3 linked regions of the Homo sapiens genome follow. The protein of the gene in region 3 interacts with the protein of the main gene of each other region in a biochemical or structural test. Each region holds a gene or a part of one and is shown on either strand. Other genes may lie near its edges.

Region 1 (7,040 bases), on a different chromosome or scaffold from region 3:
CACAAAAAATAAAGCTTGTTTATGATTTTCTTTTTCTCCTTCTTTAATGGGTGGGTTGGTTATAATAACCGAAAGCGTTATTTTTTTGACAAATGTAAGGATTCTCTGTGAAGCTGATTAGCCAGGAAGTGTTAAAATTGTCTTGTGTTCAATAGTTGGCTTAAGTTTACAGTATTGGTAAAGTGACAAAGAACTTAAAGTAGTTTGATGCTCAAGGCTAGGGGAAACATCACTGGAAAGAAAGGTGGGGAAGGTACCAATTTCTAGCCATTTCTGGGCTTTGGATTTTTTATCTTAAAAGTGCGTGGTTTGATCCGTGAGTTCCCTTCCGGCTCTGAAATTCTGTGTCTTGTAAGCGAGGTCTCCAGAGGTCTTGACAGTCTCTTCCTGAGCCAACGGCCAATTGCTTCATGGACTTGGGTGAGCTGATTAACTTCTGTTTTTGTCTTCTCATGGAGAAAGTGGATTTGATCCTTGGTATTCCAGAAAGGTCTCTTGAGTGGCCTGGTGATCTTGACCATCAAACACAAGGAAATACTTATGAATAAATGTCTGCCAGTGTCTTGGACAAAAAATTCTCAATTCTATGCACTAACAGAGAGTGCAGCATGTACATATCCTAGGTACCAAAAATAATTTCTGTTCATCTTAGAAGTTTCTTCTCCAGCCAGTTGGTTAACTTGTCTAATCCTTGGTCAAGTCTAAGGTTAACCAAGCTCTTATTCCCAGGCAGCAGGAGGAGATAGCTTTGGGGAGAAACTGGAGACCAGAAAGCCCAGTGTGGCTTTGCCTGCTTTCTGTGGGTAATTGGGATTTGGCTGAATATTTGTGATAAGGTTCATAATAATGATATAGTATCATTTTTATCACCAGGATTCTCTGTATTTCACTATGGGCATTTTTGGGAGAAGCTCTTGATGTTTTTATTGACTTTGGACATTGCCATGAAAAGTAAGGATTTAGGGCTGGGCGCGGTGGCTCATGCCTGTAATCCCAGCACTTTGGGAGGCCGAGGCAGGCGGATCACCTGAGGTCAGGAGTTCAAGACCAGCCTGGCCAACATGGTGAAACCCCGTCTCTACAAAAATACAAAAATTAGCTGGGCATGATGGTGGGGGTCTGTAATCCCAGTTACTTGGGAGGATGAGGCATGAGAAGTGCTTGAACCTGGGAGGCAGAGGTTGCAGTGAGCCGAGATCATGCCATTGCACTCCAGCCTGGGTGACAGAGCGAGACTCTGTCTCAAAAAAACAAAAACAACAACAACAAAAAAGAAAAGTAAGGATCTAGGCAAGTGGCTTATACCCCAGGCGGTATAAATGGTGCTCATGGTCCTGCTCTAAAGGCGGTTGAATTCAGCTCATTTTATTTCCGACCTCATAAAACTGTGTGGCTGAGGGAGGAGGAAGGATTAAAATCATCTGGGATCTTGTGGATTAATGATATTTCTGAATTTGCATGTTGAAGGGAAACCAGTAAAATAAAGGAGAACTAACGAATAGTTGATTTCTTTTGTGGAGAGAGGAGGACAAGAACAGCTGGATTCCAGTTACTGGCGTGCGTTGCCACAAGGGTGCTGTGGGCATTTTTAAGGAATAATATAGTCTCAGTAACATGAGTTTGACCCCAGGGCTCTCTTAATAAATCTTTTCTTCTGGGCTAAAGAAAACACACAACAAAAAGCCTCTGTGATATTTTCTAAGAATTTTAAGTTCTCAGAGTAGCTGCTTGTAGTAATTTGGTTTACTGAAGAAACAGATGATTCTTGGTCTTTCATCATGGAAGACGATGAGCTGGCATGGGGTAGCATATGCTGAGCTGTTGGGGTTTGGTTTAGCAACATAAACATTTCTTTTTATATGTTTGATAGAGCAGGAAGGGGACAAAGAACCCGTGTGCCTAAATAACAGTGATAACTCTGAGCTCAAAGAACGAGGGTTTTGTTTGTTTGTTTGTTTCTTTGAGACAGCATCTTGCTCTCTCACTCAGGCTGGAGTGCTGTGGCTCAATCTCAGCTCACTGCAGCCTCTGCCTCTCGGGTCCAAGTGATCCTCCTGCCCCAGCCTCCCAGGTAGCTGGGATTACAGGCGTGCACCACCATGCCCAGCTACTTTTAATTTTATTTTAGTAGAGACAGGGTTTCACCATGTTGACCAGGCTGGTCTTGAACTCCTAGCCTCAAGTGATCCGCCCACCTTGGCCTCCCAAAGTGCTGGGATGACAGGCGTGAGGCACCACACCCGGCTGCGGAACGAGGGTTTTTTTAATGCCATAAGCAGCCCTGGTTTCTTTCATACATGCGGCAGCTTCTTATTGAGGACTTACTATTTGCCAGGCACTGTGTTAAAGCTCCAGAAATATATTGATAATTGAAAGAGACATAATCATCTCCCTCTACCCATACCCCTACCCTTACCACTTCACTTACAGTCCAGAGGCAGACATGTAAAGAAATACAGCTTGCCAATTGTGATCAGTGCTCTGATGAAACCACAAGTCCAGTGACTTGGATGGATTTCATTAGAGTAGCCTGGAAAGGCCTCTCTGAGGTTTGGGGGTTGGGGGAGACAGCACATGAAGCAGAGGAGAGCCTGTGCAGAAGGACTTTGGTTTTGGAGAACTCAAAGAGGCACAGGTGGTCAAGGATGAAGGAGGGAGGGCAGCATGAGATGATTGTGCAGGACTCTCTGGGCTTTGAAAAGGTTTACATTTCATTTGAAGTGTAGTGGGAAGCCATTGAAAGTTTGGAGTGGGACTGGGCACGGTGGCTCACACCTGTAATCCTAGCACTTCGGGAGGCCGAAGCGGGTGGATAGCCTGAGGTCAGGAGTTCCAGACCAGCCTGGCCAAAATGGTGAAACACTGTCTTTACTAAAAATACAAAAATTAGGCTGCGTGGTGGCGGATGCCTGTGATCCCAGCTACTTGGGAGGCTGAGGCAGGAGAATCACTTGAGCCCAGGAGGTGAAGGTTGCAGTGAGTGGAGATCGTGCCACTGCACTCCAGCCTGGGTGACAGAGCGAGACTTCATCTCAAAAACAACAACAACAAAACAAACAAACAAAAGAAAGTTTGGAGTGGGAAGCGACAGCCCCTAATTCACGTTTTAAGAAGATTGCATTGGTGGAGAAGAGAGCAGAGAAAGGCAGAGCACAGTAAAGAGGCAGGTGGAGGAGGAGGCGAAGGAGGTGCATGGAGAGGAGTGGGTGGGTGTGAGATGCTCATTAGGAGTAGAATGGGCAGGGCTGCTGTGGGGTGGGGAGAAGCATCTAGAACTCCGAGGTTTCTGGCTTGTGCAGTTGAGTAGATGGTGGTGCTGTTTCCTGAGATGAAGAAAGATTGGGAGAGGGAGGCGGGCAGAATCAAGATATTTTAGTTGGGGCACCACTAAGTTTGAGGTGCCTATTAGACTCAAAGTGGAGATGTCAAGTAGGGTAATCTGATCTACCACCTAGCACGAGATAAAAATGTGGGAGCCATCGGCATGGAGAGAACATTTAAATGCAGGAGAGTGGACAGAATGCCCTAAGGAGCCCGTGGAGAGAGAAGAACAGGCAGTGTGAAGGAGGTGTGTGCTGTGTGTGTGTGTGTGTGTGTGTGTGTGTGTGTGTGTCTGTGTGTGTAGTGTTTCCTGAGGCTGATAAGGCCAGAAAAATCACCATTGGATTTGTTTCATCGTTTTTTGTTTTTTTTTTTTTTGAGATGGAGTCTTGCTCTGTTGTCCAGGCTGGAGTGCAGTGGCGTGATCTCAGCTCATGCAACCTCTGCCTCCCATGTTCAAGTGATTCTCTTGCCTTAGCCTCCCGAGTAGCTGGGACTACAGGCATGTGTCACCACGCCTGGCTGGTTTTTATATTTTTAGTAGAGACGGGGTTTCACCATGTTGGCCAGGCTGGTCTCAAACTCCTGACCTCAGGTGATCCACCTGCCTTGGCCTCCCCAAGTGCTGGATTACAGATGTGACCTACTGCACCAGGCCCTGAATTTGGCAAAATGGAATCTGTCTGTGACTTGTGAAGAACAGTTTCAGTGGAGTGAAGGGTTGGCTGGGACCACGACTGGAGAGAGTTGGGAGGGGATCGTGAGGGAGGAGCTGCGGACAGCCCGTGTAGTCAACTCTTTGGCAAAATTTGATGATGAAAGGCGAGGAGCAGAGAAACGGAGTGGGAGCTGGAAGGATGTGCACAAGGGAAAGAGGTTTTTTGGAAGTGTTGGTAATTTGTGTGCTGATGGGAAAGATCAGTGGAGAGGGAGTGACTGATCAAGAGAAACGAGTTGGGTCAGTTGAGCAAAAAGCCCTTGAGAAGGTCTGAGGGGAAGATCTGGCCTTTGTAAGGGGGTGGGGGATACTTCAGGAACTTGCTCCATCATGACAGGGAAGAAAAACTGATAAGGGGGCAGATGCTAAGGAGTGGGCAGGCAGGGGACTCTGTGGAGGACCGAGATGCTCTGCCTCCCCAGGCTGAGGCTGCCCTGTCCCTGGGAAGGAGTTTGGGCTTAGGACTTGATACCAGCCAGAGACTCAAGGGTTAAGACTGCATCAGAAATGGTACTGCATTTTTCTGAACATTTGACTGCGTTACTGAGCGGCACAGAGGAAAGAGTGAATTCTTTAGCTTGGAGAAAAGAGTCTTCAGTTAAAGTAATTTGGGCCTCACATTAAATTTATTTGAAAACTATGATTAGAAAAAGACTTCTGTGATTTTCAGCCCTGTTCAGAGTTGGTGGGTACTGTCATAGGTTTTGAGCAAGAAGCTCAAAAGAAAAAAAAGCAAAAAAAAAAAAAAAGCAAAGGCTGCCTGTTGTTTAGGTTGTCTTTCACAAAAAATATCCCATGGACTACCAGCCTCGGTGGTTCCCAGCCATGGGGTCTGCATGGGAGGTGGGTGGAAAAGGAGAGAGTCAGAGCTGGATTGAGATCCAGCTCTACACCAAGGCTCTGGACTAGTCGACCTCCGAGCCTCTCTACATCTGTAAAAAGAGGGCTGGTACCATCTTCACCTCTCCTCTTCAAGTTGTGAGAGGGAATCAGATCATGTATGGAAAGTGCGATGTCAACGGTAAGAGGCATAGAACAGAGGCAGCAGTGAGGCGACTTGATCTTCAGCCAGGTCTTCTTTTCAGATATAAAATCTGACAGCCAGCGAAACATTTCCCTTGTCCACTCCCACTGTTGTTCCCTACGTGTAGCTGCCTTCTATTTGGGGTTTTCAAGTTCTCTGTGATCCTTTAGCAAAACTGCTCTTCTTGTCGGAAGGCTGGCCTCAGAAATGCTGGCTGGGCAGTGCCAGTCAATACAGGTTCAAATTCTGATTCCATATTCAGAATCTGGGACCTGCCCACCCAAAGGGCCAAATAAACTTGGTTTGCTCCACAAAGAATCCTGTGAACTGGGTGCAGGAGAACCTTGAACCTACCCCAAGAAACCCGACTGAGGTTCTACAGTCTTAGCCGTCTTCATTTGCATTCAGTGTTTGTTTTGCAAATAAGGATTGTGCTATGAAGCTGAATCTACCTAAAAGCAGTCATTAGCCCTTAGTCTTACTGTGTATGCTGGAAAGTCAATTCTCATTTTAAAAAGATATCCAGTGCTTTTCACTAATCGGGCTCCTGGCCTCTGCCTAAGAAGGTGAAGCTTTATTTATTTATTTAAAAATGATCTTTATTATGAAAAAACTTTAAACATACACAAAAGCAGAGAGGCTAGTATAATGAACTCTCTTGTACTCATCACCTAGATTTAGCAATTATTGAGATTTTGCCACACCTGTGGATAATGGGGCTTCTTCTGTATTTGTATAATAAATATGTGTCGTTGATTTTGAAAAACAGTGGAACTGATAGCAATTTGGTTTCATAGAGAGAAGGAAGAAATCAACGAAAAATCAGAGAGAGAGGAAATGGAGGCCATCACTGAAATAACTCGCATTTTGTAGTTCCAAAGCCTCTTTGACATATCTTATTTGTGTTCTGCAACAACCAGAGAAGGTAGATATCCTCATTTTATAGCTGAGGAAACTGAGGCTCGAGAAGTAAAATTGGAAAATATAAATAAATGATCAACTAAGAGTCACCTGTTCAGCCAGCATCCAAAGCCCTGATTTAATGCCACAATTTGAATGGTTTCCAAATTTTGTGCACTCTGAAATAGATAATACTATACAGCATTAAATAAAAGAATGTGGTACAGAATATATGTAAAAGATCGTGGAAACCAGGAAGATCATCTGGGTGTTTTGGGCTTACAACTCCAATGAGCTTAGTTGGAAATACTCAGATGATTTAAGCATGTTTTTGGCATGACATTTTTGAAAACTTAAATTGTTTGCCTCCATTATTCTGGAGCACAAAGCTTTAAGGCTGCCTTATAATGAAGGCCAAGACTTGACTTTAACAAATTGGGCAGCTATTTGGGCAGCTATTTGCCATCTGTGTCCTACTGTCAGCTCTGTCCCTTCTGTGGGGCCCCTCAGCAGAGGGACCTGGGTGGTCTAGTGGTCATTTCTAGATGGTGTGGCCTCTAGCCCCTGGGCTCTGACTTTGGAGATAACAGGGCCCTGGACAGCTTGCTCCCTCAGAAAGAATCCTTCCTGAGGGCCTCTAGGGGTCTTTGTCATTACAGAGGCTGCTCCTAGGGCCTCCCTTGGTCTTTGGGAAACTGCCCCCAATCTAACTCCTTTGAAAGATTTTTTTTTTTTAAAGGAAAAGAAAAAAAGCTGGAGTTGATGCCCAAGGAGTTTTAATAGGAGTGTCGTTTGAGTTCCCTCTGTTGTCATTACAATAGGAGATACCAAGCTCCCTTAAATTCAACTGAAGGACACCAGTAATGAGGCTGATTCTGAAGTATTGGGGCTTGAGTTCGCTTTTCTTTGTTAATTGGGTGAATACATGCGAGCTGAGGGGTTTTCAGGGGGAGCCACAGTAAGTAAGGACATTTAGGGGCCTCTTTCCTTTTGAAGAGTCTGAGCTTCTTTAGAAGGCAGTATGGAATTCAAACCTCGCAAACGCTCATTCCTTAAGTCTTTCTTGATGGCTCTGTG
Region 2 (5,951 bases), on a different chromosome or scaffold from region 3:
CCTCGGGGTTTTGGCACTGGTTGTTCCTCTGGCCTGAGAATTTCCTCCCCCAGCTTTCTTCTGGGATAGATCTTTGTCATTCTGGTCTATGCGCAAATGCCACCTCCTCAGAGGCCCTCCCTGACCACCGACCTAAACAGCATCCCCGGAAAACAACGCATCACTCTCTCTTTTGCATGGCGCTTGTCGCTAGCTGCAAATGTTTCTCATTTTAGGGGTTTACTGAACACCTCCCCATCTCATCCCGGAGCTCACTGAGGGTGGGAGATGGGTGCCCCATAAAACAGGAGGAAGTGGAAATTAGGGTCCTGAGTTCCGGGAGATGCCCAGAGACCCCAGACCCCCAAGCCTCACCCCATCCTGTGGGAGCAGGGGCTGTGCGAGGCTGCTGGGCCCAGGGGCATCCCTCGTTCCCTGCCTCGCTTAGGAAGGGATCAAGTAGGCTGGAGACAGAGAGGGGCCTGGCACCCCAAATCATTCAGGCCTAGGGGAAGGGCATCTCCTTTCTCGCTCTTTAATCTCACTCTGCTCTCTTGACACAGTTCCAGCAATGCAGCCCCAGGCACCAGCTCCGAGAAGGATGCGGTGGGGCGGGGTGGGGAACCTGCCCAGGGGGCCCAGCTCTGGGGCGGGGCGGGGGCGCCTCCTTCCGGCCCGCGGTCCGGGCGGCCCTCGCAGCTGTCCAGGCCCCGGCAAGCCCGGGCGTGGTGTCCGAGCGGACGAATAAATAGGGGCGGTCAGTGGTCAGGTGGGTCAGGTGGGCTTGTGATCCGGGTGGCTTTTGAGCGTGTGGAACTTGACGCTGTCCAGCTTCTCGAAGCGCTTCCCGCAGCGATCGCACGTGAAGTTGTACTGCACCTCCGCAGTGTGCTTCTTCATGTGCCAGTTGAGCGACGCGCGCTGCCGGCACTGGTAGCCACAGATCTCGCACCTGCCGGGAGCCCGTGGCGGGACGGGGCGGGGTCAGAGTGGGCGGGGCGGGGCGGGGCCCTACAAGGCCGAGCGCAGGTGGAACCGGGCCCAGACACTGCGTTGGGGCGAAGCCGCCCCTGGGACCTGCTGGGATCCCCTCCCACCCAATCCTCTAGCGGCACGGGGCGGCCTGTCACTCACTGCAGGGGGGTCTCGCCGGTGTGGGTGCGCCGATGTACCTCCAGGTGGTTCTTCCTCTTGAAGGACTTGCCGCAGGTCTCGCAGGTGAATTCACGGACACCTGGGGGCGGTGGGGACCGAGGCTGAGGACGGTGGGCTATGGGGTGTCTCTGATGTGCTGCAGACTCTGATGCTAGAAGGAGCATCAGGCTGTCTCCTTGGATCTCCCAGGACTGCAGGTGCAGGCCGACCAAACCCTACGTCCTTCCCGTGCATTTGCCCACAGACGCCATCAAGCAGAACTGAGATCGAACTTGGGTCCCTGAGAGGCATAGGGTGCACACTACCAAGCCAACATGGGTCTGAATTTGTCTTGTGTGTGTGTATATATATATTTTGCGACGGAGTTTCGCTCTTGTTGCCCAGGCTGGAGTGCAATGGCCCGATCTCGGCTTACCGCAACCACAACCTTGGTCTCGCGGGTTCAAGCGATTCTTCTGCCTCAGCCTCCTGAGTAGCTGGGATTACAGGCATGTGCCACCAACCATGCCCAGCTAATTTTGTATTTTTAGTAGAGACGGGGTTTCTCTATGTTGGTCAGGCTGGTCTCGAACTCCTGACCTCAGGTGATCTGCCCACCTCAGCCTCCCAAAGGGCTGGGATTACCACCACGCCCGGCCTTGTCCCTGATATTTGAACTTTGGGTGATTTCGCAAAATGAAAACAAAAACAAAAACAAAAAAAACTTCTGCCCAGCACGGTGGCTCACACCTATAATCCCAGCACTTAGGGAGGCCAAGGTGGGCAGATCGCCTGAGATCAGGAGTTGGAGACAAGCCTGGCTAACATGGCGAAACCCTGTCCCTACTAAAAAAAAAAAATTAGCTGGCATGGTGGTGAGCGCCTGTAATCCCAGATACTTGGGAGGCTGGGGCAGAAGAATTGCTTGAACCCGGGAGGCAGAGGCTGCAGTGAGCCAAGATCGGATTCCAGCCCGGGCAACAGAGTGAGACTCTGTTGCAAAAAATAACCACACACACATTAAAAAAAACCAAAAAAAACAAAAAAAACCCCCAAACTTCTGACCTCCTGTGATATCAGAAGCTCTGGCCCTCAGGGCATGCCCTATCGCTGGACACAGGCACCATGGCTCTCCACTATGTCCCCAGCCCATGCAGAAGACCTGCATCTCTGCCACAAGTGGAAACAGAAGCCCAGTCCCAAGCCAGCTGCTCCTCTTTGCCCAGCTCTCCTTCCTGCTGCTGCTTGGGTGGGCACTGGTCTAGCCTGTGGCCCCAGGTGCTGCTATAGGTTCCAATCTGGAAGAGCAGTGGCGGTGTCAGCTGCTCCCTAAGTCTCGCATGAGACCTGCTCTTGGGATCATGGGGCATGGGGTCGCGGGGATAGGAGGGAAGATGGCCAGCCCCACCCAATTCCTGTGATTGATTGGTAATAGTTCCTGTCGCTGTGGCTCACATAGCTACAGCTTACTGAGGACAGGGAGGAGGCTCCTAGGGGTGTAGTCCTGTGCCCGGAGACCCAGCACTGGGCTTTGACCCGCCAGCTCTGGCCCAGGCTCCCAGGCCCATGTCCCTGTGTCCCCCGCTCATGCTGCCAGCTGGCCCAGGGCCTGACCTGAATGGATGATCATGTGCCGCCGCAGGTGGTTGGATAAATAGAACTTCTTGCCACAGCCAGGATGAGGGCACACTTTGGTCTTTCCTTTCCGATGCACAAGATTGACGTGGTTCTGGAGACGAGACAGGCAGAAGTGGGTCCCATAGGCCCACAGAAGGGGCTCTGGGAGGTGGGGAGAGATGAGGGCAGCTGGAAGGCAGGCTGGGGCTGGCCTCCCCAGGAGGAGGGAAGAGGGGTACCCTTGCCCAGCTCAGAGATTCCCAGGGGCACAACTGGGGTCAAAGGGTAGCTTTATTTTTTTTATTTTTTGAGATGGAGTCTTGCTCTGTCGCCCAGGCTGGAGTGCAGTGGTGTTCTCTCAGCTCACTGCAAGCTCCACCCCCCCGGGTTCACACCATTCTCCTGCCACAGCCTCCTGAGTAGCTGGGAGTACAGGCGCCCGCCACCACGCCCGGCTGCTATTATTTTTTTCTGTATTTTTTAGTACAGACAGGGTTTCACCGTGTTAACCAGGATGGTCTCGATCTCCTGACCTCGTGATCCGCCCACCTCGGCCTCCCAAAGTGCTGGGATTACAGGTGTGAGCCACCGCACCTGGCCAAGGGCAGCTTTATTGAACACCTACTATATGCCAGGCTCTGGACTGGGGTATCTGTCAACTCTGTGAAGGGCCCAGCTGTTAGCCCAATTAATCGATGGGGAAACTGAGGTTCAAGGCTCTGTGGTTTGGCCAAGGTCTCACAGGTGGCCAGTGGCAGGACTGGGACTGGATTTGAGGGCTATCAGCCTCTGTGGGCCTGGAACAGGCAGCCCCAATTGATTCATTCCTTTGTTCCTTCACTCTTTAACTTACTAGAACAACCCTGGCTCCAGCTTGCAGGCCTGGCTTGCACTAAGTGCTTAATACATGCTCAATCAATGCATGGCATGGCACAAAGGCCTGTTGTTGCATCCTCCCATGCCAGGTCCTGGGGTGTGACAAGTCCCTGTCTTTGCCTTCAGGGACACCTCGTCAAATTTCAAGGGGCAAACTAGAGGTAGGACATCCTGGTGGTGCCATGGCCTGGGCCTTGTGGGCCTGGCCCAGGCTGCTCCGGGTGGCGGCCTCACCTGGAAGCTGCTGAGGGCCACGTAGACTTGGCTGCAGCCCTCGTATGGGCAGTGGAACATCTCGAGCAGGCCGTCAGCATCCATCACCCGCGACCGCTTGCTCCGCCGCCTCCTGGAGGGGAAGGGGCCATGACATCGGGGCTCCCGCACCAGGCAGGCTGGGGGCCTGCGGGCCGCTTCTAGCCCTCGCCCTCACCCTTGCCCGCCCCGGCACCCACTTCTCAGGCTCCTTGGGGATTTCATAGATGATGGCTGACATGTCGCTGCCGTCCAGCTCCTCCCCGTCCGCCTCTGCCTCAGGCTCTGCGCTCTCAGGCACCGTTGTTGCCAGCTCCGGGGCTACTGGCTCCTCCTTCTCCTCCTTCTTTAGCAAGCACAGGTCCTCCTTCTCTACAGGGTGGACACAGGGTGGTGTCCGCAGGGGACGAAGGCTGCCGAGGTGCCCACTTCGAGGGCCATTCCTCGCCCGGCCCCTCCCAGGCCCAACCACCCCTGGCCAGAGGCCACGACAGGTCCCCCAGACCTTTCTTGGTCTCGATGCCTGCTACTGCGGTGGCGTCCATGGTGCTAGGCTGGCTACCCTCGGGCTCTGTCTGGGTGTAGGCTGCCACACCCTCCATCATGGCACAGGGCACCTCCTCGCCCAGTCCACTGCCGGGGACACCGCTGCCTGCTGCCATGTTGAGGTGAATGCCCTCGGCCGTGAGAGCGTCGTAACCAGGGCCCGCAATGATGATCACCTGTGAGCCGGGCACCATGCCTGGCATGGGGCAGCTGGCCACCACCTCACCCAGGGCCTCCTGGGGCACGTTCTCAAAGAGGGCGCTGGGGCCCGCACCCACTTGCACAGGCACCGGCACGCACACCACTGTCTCCAGGGCTTCAGGCCCATTGCCTGCTGGGTTGGAGCACAGCGGGGTACCCTGCTCGGCCAGGCTTTCCACGTGGTGGACGTCAAAGGGAATGTGCACGCCCTCCTGAGTGATGAGCCCGCTGCTGCCCACCGGGCTGGTGGGCGTCGCTGCCGCTGCCGCTGCCGCAGCCTTGACCGGCTGGCCCTCAGGAGACTCCTCAGAGTCAGAGGCAGAGCCAGAGCTGGATGAGTCAGAGCTGCCAGCCACCAGCCCATTGCCCACTGTGGGGACAGAAGAAAGGGAGTGGTTATGATAGCTGCAGCCACTGGTATTTGTTTATTTAGTTTTTATTTTATTTTATTTATTTATTTATTTATTTTTTTGAGACAGAGTCTCACTCTGTCACCCAGGCTGGAGTGCAGTGGTGCGATCTCAGCTCACTGCAACCTTGGCATCCCCGGTTCCAGTGATTCTCCTGCCTCAGGCTCCCGAGTAGCTGGGACTACAGGTGTGCGCCACCACACCTGGCTTTTTTTTTTTTTCCTGAGATGGAGTCTCACTCTGTCACCCAGGCTGGAGTGCAGTGGCGCGATCTCTGCTCACTACAAGCTCTGCCTCCCAGGTTCATGCCATTCTCCCACCTCAGCCTCCCGAGTAGCTGGGACTACAGGCATGTGCCGCCATGCCCGGCTAATGTTTTGTATTTTTAATAGAGATAGGGGTTCACCAGGATGGTCTCGATCTCCTGACCTCGTGATCCACCCACCTCTGCCTCCCAAAGTGCTGGGATTACAGGTGTGAGCCACCGCGCCTGGCCCACACCCGGCTAATTTTTGTATTTTTAGTAGAGACGGGGTTTCATCATGTTGGCCAGGCTGGTCTCAAACTCCTGACCTCAAGTCATCTGCCCGCCTCAGCCTCCCAAAGTGTTAGAATGACAGTCATGAGCCACCGTGCCTGGCTGAATTTTTCTTTTCTTTTCTTTTTTTTTTTGAGATGGAGTCTCGCTCTGTCACACAGGCTGGAGTGCAGTGGCGCAATATTGGCTCACTGCAAGCTCCGCTTCCCAGGTTCACACCATTCTCCTGCCTCAGCCTCCCGAGTAGCTGGGACTACAGGCAACCGCCACCACGCCCAGCTAATTTTTGTATTTTTAGTAGAGATGGAGTTTCACTGTGTTAGCCAGGATGGTCTCGATCTCCTGACCTTATGATCCGCCCACCTCGGCCTCCGAAAGTGCTGGGATTACAGGCATGA
Region 3 (2,704 bases):
CATTTTACAGATGGGGGACCGAGAGGTTCAATAACTGCCCAGGGATCCTCCCCGAGGGAGGCTGGTGATGGGCTTCATAATTCTTGTTCATTGTGACCACTGTGGTGATGATGATGGCAGTGATGATGGTGACAGGTGACTGTGGTTGGGTGGTTGATGGTGGCGGTGGCCATGTTCATGAAAAACACAGGCATGTGGGTATTGGTGACGATGGTGGTGTTTGTCAACCAGGGTGACAGCAATGGTGATGGCGACACGGTGCCAACGGGGAGACCATGTTGCATGGTTGGTGGCAGCAATGCCCATGTCTTTGATGGTCATAGGGAAGGTGGTATTGGTGATGCTGGTGACGGTGTTGGCCCAGCCCTGATGGGCATGGATGGTGACGCGATGGTGACCGAGAACCTCCCTTTGCAGATTTGAAGTTCCTGAATAACCACATCCTGGTGAAAGACGCTCAGGAGAAGGCCAACGCCGCCCTGCTTGACTACACCCTGTGCCACTACCCGCACTGCGGGGACAAATTCCAGCAGCTGCTGCTGTGCCTGGTGGAGGTGCGGGCCCTGAGCATGCAGGCCAAGGAGTACCTGTACCACAAGCACCTGGGCAACGAGATGCCCCGCAACAACCTGCTCATCGAAATGCTGCAAGCCAAGCAGACTTGAGCCTGGGCCGGGGGCGGGGCCGGGACTGGGGGCGGGACTGGGGGCGGGGCCTGGGCGGGGCCGCAGCCACACCGCTGGCTCCGCATGGTTCATTTTCTGATGCCCACCGAGGAGCCCCAGCCCCGTCCCAGAGGCCGCTGCCCCTGAGTTCTGACACTGTGTGTTTGGGAAGGTGGGTGAGGCTGGGCAGGGCCTGGCGGAGGTGGAGTGGCCACTGGCACTTGCCTGCTGCTTGGAGTGCCCCAAGGAGGTGGCTGTTAACCACCCGCCCCGCCCCCTCCCTGCTCCCAGCTCTCTCTCCTGGAGTCTGAAGCCTGCAGGTCCGGGGAGGAGGTTCGGGATTCCCTGGTGGGCCTCGACGTCCCTTGGATCAGAGGTCATCCCTTCCTCCTCTCCTGGAAACAGACAGGGAGAAGTTGAGCAGGTATCAACTAGGGGAGGAGAGAGGGTCTCCAGTGTTCCCCCCATAGAGACCAGGAGGGAGAGCCTCTGTTTTGTAAACTAAGGATAACCGAGTTTGCTAAATTGAGAGGGGCTATTGGGCCCTAGAGGACACTAGGAGACTGGTTAGGACAAAAAGACCTTCTCCCTAGCCCTTCTACCCCACCTGACCTCTGCAAGAGGGGGCATTGATACATCATCGGGAAAAAACTTTGCTCCAGGCATCACTGATTCCCTCTCCCACCCAAGGAGAACGTTTGGTACAATCGACATCCTAGCCCCACCCAGAGGTGGCCCTCCCAGGCTGGTATTTATCTGCAAGGTTGTAGTCAAGAGGTTTTTCTCCCCGCTTTTTGTTTTTAAGCTTCTAGACACTCCTTGAAATGTGTGTGTGATGGAGGGAAGGGGACAGATTTGAGGACTGAAGCTGGGGCTTGGGGATTGCCACTAAGTACAGCTGACGGTTTCTCCCCGGACACTCGCCTACTAAGTACCCTTGGGGTGGTGCTGGGTCATTACTTCTGAGCCCCAGCCCCAATCCAGAGAAGCGCTGTTGCCCGCCCTCCACCCACTAGGTGAACAGCAGGATGCCCTGTTGGGGGCTTCAGGTCTCTGTGGGTGGGAATGCAAGTGAACTTGGGAGGGGGCACGGGCCTGTAGATCAGGGATAGCGCTGTTGATCCCCTCTCTGTGGCTCCAACCCGTTGGGTCCCTTGCTGCAAACCCATGAAGCTGGCCCTCAGCTCCCTGACCCCCTGTCCTAGGTCATGAAGGACACTCTGCAGGGTGAAGCACCAGGGAGAGGCCTCGGCTGTCTCCTGTCCCCGGCGGGGTGCCTGCTGTCCGTCCCGCTTTCATGTTACTGTTGCAGCTTGTGCTGAGCCTGCCCAGTTGGAGGAGACTGGGCACCCCTGCCTCCTGCCTCCCGCCTCCCGCCACCCTGTCTCAGTACCTCCCCTCCCCGCCCCCTGAAACATGTGCCCCTGCCAAGGCCGGAGACCCACAGCCCTGAAACGAGAAGTGCCCTTAAGGATCACCCCAGCCCCCACAGCCCTGGAATAAATTTCGCAATTAGTTTCCAGCTACCTTTGCCTGTGTACGTTCTGGGGCCAAAGCAGAACGGCCCGGGTGGATTCCGGGTGGTCTAGGTTGGGGCAGCGCTCTGACTTGGATGGAGGTGGCACGCAGACCCTCTTTGCTTCAAAACTCTGAGGAGGCAGGTGGGTGGCGGGGCCGGGTGGGGGGACACCAGGCACTGTTGGGGTTTGGGACCCACCTCATCCCTGGGACCCTGAGGCACTGGGAGGCCAGGGGGATGCTGTAGCCTCTCTGCCTGTTGCATGCTGGCCATGCCAGCTCAGCCCCCATCTTGGGGCAGAAGGAGCAGCCATTTAAGGGGCACCTACTGTGTGCCACCCTCATCTCACTGTCCCCGCAGCAGCCCTGTGAGGCAGGGGTTATACTCTAGGAGGGGAAGGCACTTGCCAAGGGCCCATGAGCCACAGACCTGGGAGACCAGACCCCTCAGAGCCCTGCCCTTTCCTGTCTGCCCCACCACGTCCCTCACAGGTTCCTCCCCAGCCCCACGTGGTGGCGGC

Evidence for each region.
Region 1: the proteins of NR5A1 (region 3) and TRERF1 form a complex in vitro, tested with the Homo sapiens proteins (one study listed by BioGRID).
Region 2: the proteins of NR5A1 (region 3) and ZNF653 form a complex in vitro, tested with the Homo sapiens proteins (one study listed by BioGRID).

Annotation. Positions count from the first base shown.
Region 1 is NC_000006.12:42,441,927-42,448,966, reverse strand, and holds part of TRERF1 (transcriptional-regulating factor 1), read left to right. Parts: intron 1-7,040.
Region 2 is NC_000019.10:11,482,929-11,488,879, forward strand, and holds the end of ZNF653 (zinc finger protein 653), read right to left. Parts: intron 4,976-5,951; coding exon 4,364-4,975; intron 4,231-4,363; coding exon 4,059-4,230; intron 3,953-4,058; coding exon 3,841-3,952; intron 2,843-3,840; coding exon 2,728-2,842; intron 1,214-2,727; coding exon 1,114-1,213; intron 932-1,113; coding exon 754-931; 3' UTR 501-753; downstream 1-500. UniProt on the Homo sapiens protein: Transcriptional repressor. May repress NR5A1, PPARG, NR1H3, NR4A2, ESR1 and NR3C1 transcriptional activity.
Region 3 is NC_000009.12:124,480,719-124,483,422, reverse strand, and holds the end of NR5A1 (steroidogenic factor 1), read left to right. Parts: intron 1-417; coding exon 418-665; 3' UTR 666-2,187; downstream 2,188-2,704. UniProt on the Homo sapiens protein: Transcriptional activator. Essential for sexual differentiation and formation of the primary steroidogenic tissues. Binds to the Ad4 site found in the promoter region of steroidogenic P450 genes such as CYP11A, CYP11B and CYP21B.